Regions from separate parts of the Homo sapiens genome. Here regions 1 and 2 are each reported to be linked to region 3. Evidence: microRNA targets listed by miRTarBase, many of them from high-throughput screens and not tested one by one. Region 3 holds a microRNA gene; each other region holds the end of a gene's coding sequence.

What was found. The annotated mature microRNA hsa-miR-4473 reads CUAGUGCUCUCCGUUACAAGUA and lies in region 3 at 1,507-1,528, opposite strand. An mRNA with a match to its seed (bases 2 to 7 or 8) in the 3' UTR can be bound and repressed. Matches are read on the target gene's strand: a 7mer-m8 pairs with bases 2 to 8, a 7mer-A1 pairs with bases 2 to 7 and ends in A, and an 8mer does both.
Region 1: miRTarBase lists RABAC1 as a target of hsa-miR-4473. The part of its 3' UTR that is shown has no 7-base or 8-base seed match.
Region 2: the mRNA of LRP12 is a reported target of hsa-miR-4473. Seed matches in the 3' UTR shown: 7mer-A1 at 1,732-1,738 and 7mer-m8 at 1,774-1,780.

What each region holds. Positions count from the first base shown.
Region 1 is chr19:41,953,709-41,957,020 of GRCh38, reverse strand. It overlaps RABAC1 (Rab acceptor 1), which reads left to right. Exons shown (of 5, transcript NM_006423.3): 4 at 1-3; 5 at 87-338. The coding sequence ends at 175. Among named protein-coding and RNA genes, the nearest start is that of RABAC1, 4.0 kb to the left of the region's middle.
Region 2 is chr8:104,488,254-104,491,538 of GRCh38, reverse strand. LRP12 (LDL receptor related protein 12) reads left to right here. Exons shown (of 7, transcript NM_013437.5): 7 at 1-2,303. The coding sequence ends at 866. Among named protein-coding and RNA genes, the nearest start is that of MIR548A3, 5.4 kb to the right of the region's middle.
Region 3 is chr9:20,409,655-20,412,654 of GRCh38, forward strand. It overlaps MIR4473 (microRNA 4473), which reads right to left and starts at 1,584; the gene lies at 1,494-1,584. All of the region lies in intron 5 of MLLT3 (MLLT3 super elongation complex subunit), which reads right to left.

The DNA.
Region 1 (3,312 bases), not on the chromosome of region 3:
TGGGTGAGTACAGGGTCTGAGCAGCTGGGGTGGATGGTGGGAGCCAGGTGCAGGAGTGTGGCCCTGAGCTGCCGGCTTTCCTGCAGGAGCCACCCTGGTGGTCATCGGCTCCCACGCTGCCTTCCACCAGATTGAGGCTGTGGACGGGGAGGAGCTGCAGATGGAACCCGTGTGAGGTGTCTTCTGGGACCTGCCGGCCTCCCGGGCCAGCTGCCCCACCCCTGCCCATGCCTGTCCTGCACGGCTCTGCTGCTCGGGCCCACAGCGCCGTCCCATCACAAGCCCGGGGAGGGATCCCGCCTTTGAAAATAAAGCTGTTATGGGTGTCATTCAGGAAATATTCCCCCAGCATCTTCTGTGGGTCTCTATGGGTGGAGCTGGGAATACTGCACAGAGCAGGGTTGGGGTGGAACCTGGGGTGTGGGCAAGACGATGACAAGGTAAACAGGTAAAATATTATGGGATGCCCAATGGTGGTGAGTGTTCAGGAGGAGAAAAGAGTTGAGAAGGACAGTGTGCCGGGGGTCCCCGAGACCACCCCCAGGTTTGATGGTTCTTTAGGACTCAGGAATCAGAGAGCACCCCAGGTTTGATGGTTCTCTGGGACTGGGGACTCAGTATGCAATTGCACTCACAGCTCTGATTTACTCTCATCAAAGGGTATGGAGCCAAGTCAGCCAAAAGGAAAGGTGCATGGAGTGAACTCGGGAAACCAGGCATGCACTTCCAGAGGCCACACCTAATTCCTCCAGCAGTGGATCATGGTGACGTGTGAAATGTCAGCCAGGGACACTCTGATCCTAGCCTCAGCGCCCTTGGTTTCATGGGGGCGGCCACAAGAGCACCTTCTCTCCAACATATACCAAAATGCCAGGCTCCCAGAAAGAAGGCCTGTGCCTGCACGAACAGCCTAGATAGATGCAGCAAGCCACTCTAGGCCTGCACGAACAGCCTAGATAGATGCAGCGAGCCACTCTATCAGGAAGTGATAAGACCCCCCCCCCAACACCCAAGTTCCCAGCCAAGGACCAACTGTGCACCCAGGCCTGTCTAAGGACAGCAGTCTGTTGTGGAGCCTGCCAGGTTAACTCTTTTCTGCACAGAGAAAGTTCGGGAATGAGTTGTGGGTTAAAGAGGGTGACCAGAAAAGGCCTCCCTGACGTGACATTCACCAAAGACCTAAATTGAGAGAGGGAGCAGCCCAGATCCTTTGGAGGAAGAATAATTGGGGCAGAGGAAGCCACAGGGGCATAGCCTGGGAGATGGCAGCAGCCAGGAGGCTCGAGGGCAGCCAGGAGGTGGGCGTGGCTGGGGCAGATAAGCGAGGGGGACAGTGTGGGAGGCCAGGGAGCCTTGTGGGCCACGGTGAGGGCTTTGGGTTTTACTCTGCTTGAGATGAAAGACACAGTTTGCTTTTGTGAGATGGATTTTGCTTTGTTTCCCAGGCTGGTCTCAAATTCCTGGGCTCAAGCGATTCTCCCCCTGCAGCCTCCCATAGTGCTGGGACTACTGGTGTGAGCCACTGTGTCCAGCCCAGTTTGCTTCTTGCCTTTTGTTTTTTTGAGACAGGGTCTCACTTTATGGCCCAGGCTGGAGTGCAGTGGTGTGACCACTGCTCACTGCAGCATCTACCTCTTGGGCTCAAGTGAGCCTCCCACCTCAGCCTCCTGAGCAGCTGGGACCACAGGTGCACGCCACCACACCCAGCTAATTTTTTTTAACTTTTCATTAGACAGGGTCTCACTATGTTGCCTGGCCTGGTTTCAAACTCCTGGGCTGAAGCAATCCTCCTGCCTCAGCCTCTCAAAGTTCTGGGATTACAGGCATGAGCCACCGTGCCGGGTCCAGTTTGCCTTTCATCATGAGGTGGAGACTGCCACGTGGTAGCAGTAACAAAAGAGAAACACACTTGGGAGGGAAAGTGCCAGGCAGATGAAGACAAGGGAGGTGGCCGAGAGGGCCTAAGAAGTGACTTGATTTTTTTATTTTTATTTATTTGTTTATTTTTTTGAGATGGAGTCTCTCTCTGTCGCCCACGCTGGAGAGCAATGGTGTGATTTCGGCTCACTGTAACCTCCACTTCCAAGATTCAAGCTATTCTCCTGCCTCAGCCTCCCAGGTAGCTGGGATTATAGGTGCCCACCAACACGCCTGACTAATTTTTGTATTTTTAGTTTTATTTTTTAATTTTTTTGAGATGGAGTTTCGCTCTTGTTGCCCATGCTGGAGTGCAATGGCGCGATCTCGACTCACTGCAACCTCCACCTCCCGGTTTCAAGTGATTCTCCTGCCTCAGCCTCCCGAGTAGCTGGGATTACAGGCGCCTGCCACCACGCCCGGCTGATTTTTTTGTATTTTTGGTAGAGACAGGGTTTCACTGTGTTGCCCAGGCTGGTCTCGAACTCCTGACCTCAGGTGATCCACCTGTCTTGGCCTCCCAAAGTGCTAGGATTACATGTGTGAGCCACCGTGCCCCGCCAATTACTTTAGATAGGGGTGGTCTGGGAGGGCTCTCTGAGGAGACACAAGAAGTGGGTGGAGTTTCCCAAGGAGAGGGACAGCGAGTGCCAAGGCCTCAGGGATGCAGCCTCTCCAACCTCGTGTCTCCTCAGCAGAACTCACCCACTCATCCTTGATGCAGCAGGTGCTCACCCAGAGCCCACTGATGCCCACTGTTCTGGAATTCTCCTGTCAGATATGGTGGCCAGCCATATGCGGCTGCCTCAAACATGGCTGGTCCAAACTGAGACATGCTATGAGTGTGAAATGCACACCAGACTTCGAAGATTTAGTATGAAAATGGAGTAAAATATCTCAATAATTTTTATAGGCTGGGCATGGTGGCTCACACCTGTAATCCCAGCACTATTGGGAGGCTGAGGCAGGCAGATCACTTGAGGCCAGGAGTTTTAGACCAGCCTGGCCAATATGGTGAAACCCTGTGTCTACTAAAAGTACAAAAATTGGCCTGGCGCGGTGGCTTACGCCTGTAATCCCAGCACTTTGGGAGGCCGAGGCAGGTGGATCACGAGGTCAGGAGTTCAAGACCAGCCTGGCCAAGATGGTGAGACCCCGTCTCTACTAAAAATACAAAAAAATTGGCCGGGCATGGTGGCGGTGCACTGTAATCCCAGCTACTTGGGAGGCTGAGGCAGAGAATTGCTTGAACCCAGGGGGCGGAGGTTGCAGTGAGCCAAGATCGCACCACTGCACCCCAGCCTAGGCAACAGAGCAGGACTCCATCTCAAAAAAAAAAAAAAAAAAATTGGCATGGTGGCACATGCCTATAATCCCAGCTACTTGGGAGGTTAA
Region 2 (3,285 bases), not on the chromosome of region 3:
CTTCTGTTTTGGAAAATCTGAGGCTAGCGGTACGATCTCAGCTTGGATTTACTTCAGTCAGGCTTCCTATGGCAGGCAGATCAAGCAACATTTGGAACCGTATTTTTAATTTTGCAAGATCACGTCATTCTGGGTCATTGGCTTTGGTCTCAGCAGATGGAGATGAGGTTGTCCCTAGTCAGAGTACCAGTAGAGAACCTGAGAGAAATCATACTCACAGAAGTTTGTTTTCCGTGGAGTCTGATGATACAGACACAGAAAATGAGAGAAGAGATATGGCAGGAGCATCTGGTGGGGTTGCAGCTCCTTTGCCTCAAAAAGTCCCTCCCACAACGGCAGTAGAAGCGACAGTAGGAGCATGTGCAAGTTCCTCAACTCAGAGTACCCGAGGTGGTCATGCAGATAATGGAAGGGATGTGACAAGTGTGGAACCCCCAAGTGTGAGTCCAGCACGTCACCAGCTTACAAGTGCACTCAGTCGTATGACTCAGGGGCTACGCTGGGTACGTTTTACATTAGGACGATCAAGTTCCCTAAGTCAGAACCAGAGTCCTTTGAGACAACTTGATAATGGGGTAAGTGGAAGAGAAGATGATGATGATGTTGAAATGCTAATTCCAATTTCTGATGGATCTTCAGACTTTGATGTGAATGACTGCTCCAGACCTCTTCTTGATCTTGCCTCAGATCAAGGACAAGGGCTTAGACAACCATATAATGCAACAAATCCTGGAGTAAGGCCAAGTAATCGAGATGGCCCCTGTGAGCGCTGTGGTATTGTCCACACTGCCCAGATACCAGACACTTGCTTAGAAGTAACACTGAAAAACGAAACGAGTGATGATGAGGCTTTGTTACTTTGTTAGGTACGAATCACATAAGGGAGATTGTATACAAGTTGGAGCAATATCCATTTATTATTTTGTAACTTTACAGTTAAACTAGTTTTAGTTTAAAAAGAAAAAATGCAGGGTGATTTCTTATTATTATATGTTAGCCTGCATGGTTAAATTCGACAACTTGTAACTCTATGAACTTAGAGTTTACTATTTTAGCAGCTAAAAATGCATCACATATTCATATTGTTCAATAATGTCCTTTCATTTGTTTCTGATTGTTTTCATCCTGATACTGTAGTTCACTGTAGAAATGTGGCTGCTGAAACTCATTTGATTGTCATTTTTATCTATCCTATGTTAAATGGTTTGTTTTTACAAAATAATACCTTATTTTAATTGAAACGTTTATGCTTTTGCCAACACATCTTGTAACTTAATATACTAGATGTTAAGGTTGTTAATGTACAAAAAAAAAACCCTTATACTCACCTGCGTTTTCATTTGTTTGACATTTGTCTATTATTGGATTTCATTATCATATGAACTTGTCAGTGGGAAACAAACTGTCTAAAAATTTTTCTCTTACGTTTAACATACAATCATGTGAAATTTAGGCAGAGTTCGATAAATTACTGGCAAAAACAAAACTCTTTTATAAAGATTTTCTAATGTTGACTTTAATACTCTAACATGGTACAAACCAAATGGTAAAATCCCAAGTCATTTCTTTTTTCATCTCTATTTAGCAACAGAATTAAGTGGATGAAGATATTCTACTATGCATTAAATCTTGAACTTTATAAAACATGTACAAAAATTGTACAAGATAAGTTCCACCTGGTAATGTCTTTCCCTAATACAGGGTTGCGCTTGCATTGGACCCTAGGGATTTGCACTAAAATTATATCAAGGTCTCAGATGAGCTTAGTGCACAAGCACTATCACTTTAAATACTATTATTTGCTACCACAGCAACTATATATTTCCATAGCTTTTGGCTGGGGGCGGGGGACATTTTTATTACAACTTGAAATTGCTTTGCTGGTTTCATATTTATTTGTTGTATTTAAAAAATACATTGTTGTAAGAGTGATTTTTTCAATATATTTTATTCCTGGGGGGGATCATGCTACACTCTCAAAAGAAAATTAAGAAATCATTCAGATCATCCCCCCTTTTTAAGTAGTGTGAATTGCAAAACCCAACATATTTTTTTTACTGTCAGTTGCGGTTTATTTATTCTTTAACTGTCTGTTTTAGTAGTTTAATGATTATGAAAAATGTATCTGTGTGTGATTTGCTATTTATTAAATTTTAAGTACTTTGCTGAATGTCATTTTAAAGCATGTTTGAAGTCTTGTGTATTTGTCTGTGTTAATGCTGTCAGGAGGAACTGACTAAGATGTTTTAATATGTATCAAAAATTAAAATGATTTTTTTTATTGCCTTGAGGTACTTTTTAAATCAAAGCTGTTCTTTATTTGTTGAATTTTGGTGCATATACAAATTCAGGCCATAAAATATGCAATATATCTAGAATAAAAATGATTAGAAGGAGATCATTCCTTAACTACTTTATAGTAAAGTAGTAGCTTTTACCAGTACTCGAGGGTAAAATTTTCTAAGGACTTGAATATTATTTTGCTTGAGATTGCCCTTCAATTGATGTATCTCACAAGATGAGAGAGTTTAATTGATTAAACTGCCTTTTAATTGACGTATCTCACAAGATGCAGTAACACAATCAGTTCTCTTTTTAAATTGTTTTCACATACATTTTAGACCCCTATAATATATTCTACTGGCAGAATTTGGGTTACCAAATAATCTTTTATGCCCTAGTACTAATATATTATCAAGTACAAGGGTTTTGGTTTTCTAGCATATGTTTTAATTTATTATTTTAATTAACTAATACATCATCCTGGTTCAAACAGTAAAATGTAAATTCCTCTTCTATCCCAACACCCATCTTTTAGTTCACTTGAAAGAGACACATATCAGTACCAGATTCTTGTATATCTCTCTAGAAATAACCATATATGTACATAGGCATATCAGTACCATATATAGTAATGCAAATTGTAACATAACTATGCATACATTTTCTGTACCTTTTCTCAAAGGGAAATAATACATCATTAGAGTTTGAATATTAAAAGTAAGATCAAGCATTTCTGTTATTTGTTTTTTTTACATTTAAATCATTGATCTCTCCTGAATTTAGGGCTTCACTATCTTTTTTCCAGATGACTACCTAGTTTTCACAAAGCTATTTATTAAATAATAAATCCTTTCCTTACTAATTTGAAATGGAACTTACATAGTACATTTCCATATTATTTGGGTATGTTTCTACACTGTATTTTCTTCTGTTGATCTGCTTTTCTCTTTTTGTACCAATCCTTTATTGTTTTAATAACTGTGATTTTTAAGTGTTTCAAAT
Region 3 (3,000 bases):
TTCCCCTATCATGCTTTCTGTATTTGCTAAATGCTCACCCACTATAACACAGTCCTTCTGCCTGTCTACCTTATCCAAGCCCCTACCAAATTCTTCTGTAGGGGAAATTTGTTGACAAACTTTCATGTGACAGTATTACATCTCTTTATGAGAAACATTTCAATAATCACAAAATGTATTTAAAAATTATTCTTTCAGTTATATTAACAGTAACTCAAAGATAAATCATTTCTTAGGATATTTTAACAGCAACAGCAGAAAACAAAAATGAAAAAACAAAAATCTACCAAGTGCCTACCCAGTGCAGTACTTGGTATGTTCTTGTCCTTTATCTCATTTAATTAAAAAGCTGAAAGATCTGAGACACTTTGGCTTATCTTTCAGCTTAAAACTTAAGACTTTTTATCTTGTATTTTTACATTGATCATGTAGCAGAACCATATCAACATCAAGACCATACACCTTGTGACGACAAAATTCAGAGCAAAGTGACAAAAGACAAAACTCAAAACAAAGTGGCTTAGAGTACCAAATATTGCAGCATATAAACCCACAACCTTGAAAAAGGACACCAGAGTTCTGCAAGAGAAAAAATCTTGAGTTTGAAAGAGAAAAAATCTCTTTCAAAGCTACAGGTTATATAGGTACCCAGAAGTCAAGTCATACATAGCAATAGCTAACTTACATTTTTTTTATTAGTGTGTTAACGTTTCACCCACATTGATTTATTAAATTTTCAACAATAATCCTACAAAGAAGATACTATTATGATCTCCATTTTATAAAAGAGGAAACTAAGAAACAGAGAAAGTTAAATTATTTGCCCAAGATCCCTAGTGGCACTGAAATTTAAGACACAGCCTGTCTGACACCAGACAGCAGAATTCTAATTACCTATCTACCTACCTTTCACTTATCAACAAATAAGTGATCGATCCCTCAAACACCAGCCAGACATACAAACCATGGATGTCCAACTTCTTTCTCTCTTCTCACATACAAAGGATATGAAAATCCTACCAAAAAGGACCATATCAATTAATAATCTAAGCTTCCTAACCCATCTTAATACTACTGACATTTTTATATAAAACCTGAGTAGAATTTGATTCTAGAAAAGGTTCTTTAAAATGTTCATCTTTTTAAACTATAAGACCTATACTGAGGCGAGATGTTTTCTTTATAGACATACTAGACAAATAATCATTTTCCCCAGCCTTCCTTATACTTCAAATTCTTCTGATTTATTTGTGTCTTTTTTCTGTTTCCAAAGTCCATGATCTCTGCCCATTATGTCTAAAATCACCCATCACCCCATGTCCCACAAATGAATACGAATCTGGCTCATATTCAACTAATAAAGCTGGAAAGGACCTTAGAGAGATCAGGTCATCTAATCACACTTACTCAGAGGCAGACACACAACTAGGACAATGTGCACAGTCACCCCTGAAGTTGGGCCTGCCCCAAGCCACCAAGTCAATTACTAGCCAAGGTAACAGGGGATACTTGTAACGGAGAGCACTAGCAGTCCATAGCAGTCCATAGCTTAGTGTTCTCCATTACAAGTGTCCCCTGTTCCTTTTGTCTTGCTGGCAGGAGGGATGCCAGGTAGGACAGGTAGGAGACAGTCCAAACAAAGCCTGTCTTTTCTACTGGATAAATGGAATTTCAATTCTCTCTCACCTTCCTTTGCTCATAGAAAGGCCTTTGGGTTCATGGTTTACATGACATCACTTTTGTTAATTCTCTTCTGTTACGCTACCTACTTTTCAAGTATTGAACCAATAGCAACAACAATAAAGCCATTACTAGTACCAGAAGACTAATAAGGAAAGTACGGCTGTTGGGTTTTATACACAAATAGTACCTGAAAGTCTTTACAGGCTTTCTCAGCAATGCTATGCAGAGTACATTACAAAAACTACTATTGTAATCATTGGATTTGTGGCTCTAATATGTCATATACCATTTTGAAAATTTACTACCTACTGTAAAGTTTTCCAATTCTAACTCTTCATTCCAGAAGACTTTTCAAGGTATACTTTGAATAAATACATCAAATTGAACAAGAATTTTATTAAAAGGAAGACATACTTTATAAATCATATATAAATGGGAGGGAGCAAGAGGCAGACAAAAGGAGAATAAACAAAATTACCTAAAGAGGAAGACCATCTGTGTTTCATGTAGAAAGAGCTTTCAATGATGCTTTATGAACGCCATTTGGTCTTCTCATAAATCGGCAAACATTCTAAAAAGGTGCCTTTCAAAATTTTGACCACTATAAGAAACACACACACCTTCTCTGAAATAAAATTTTCATAAGCCATTACTTACCCATACTAATTATAGTTTTCTGATTTTTTTAATGCTAGTGATACGTTAAATTTATTTCACAGCTCACTAGTGAATCACAACCCATGATTTGAAAACCTCTATACTAGAAGAATTGCAATGTGTTAGAATATAAAATGGCAAAGTTGCAAAATTTGACAATTTTGATTGAATAATCACAACCCAACAGCATTTCAGGGTGATTGGAAACAAAAGTCAAACACACACAAAAAAGGTCCAAGTAACATCTGCATTAAGAATAAGCTTCAAGTTAAGAGGAAAGGTAAGAAGCAAAGAAGGAAAAATAAATACTTGAGTTATTGGAACAAACACATTCAACTCTCATCTCCATTTCATAAATTATGACTATAAAGCCTTTACCAAATACTGGAACAAATTTTCCCAATGTCCAGTATTTTATATGCTACTGTCCTAATCTGATCTTCTACCAAAATTTCGAGATTAGCTATAGAGAGTAGGGAGATCTGTGGACCACTGGGGATCAGTGTCAGCACCATGTCCTGACCCTGACTGGCTTTCTACCCAGAACAGTACAAACCCGGCACAGCAAATCTGCTACTATGCCCTCCTAGCCTTTGCCAGCATTTAAACTAGAGACATCTGTGGGCAGCCCAAGGGACAGAAAGAAAAGTGTTCTAAGAT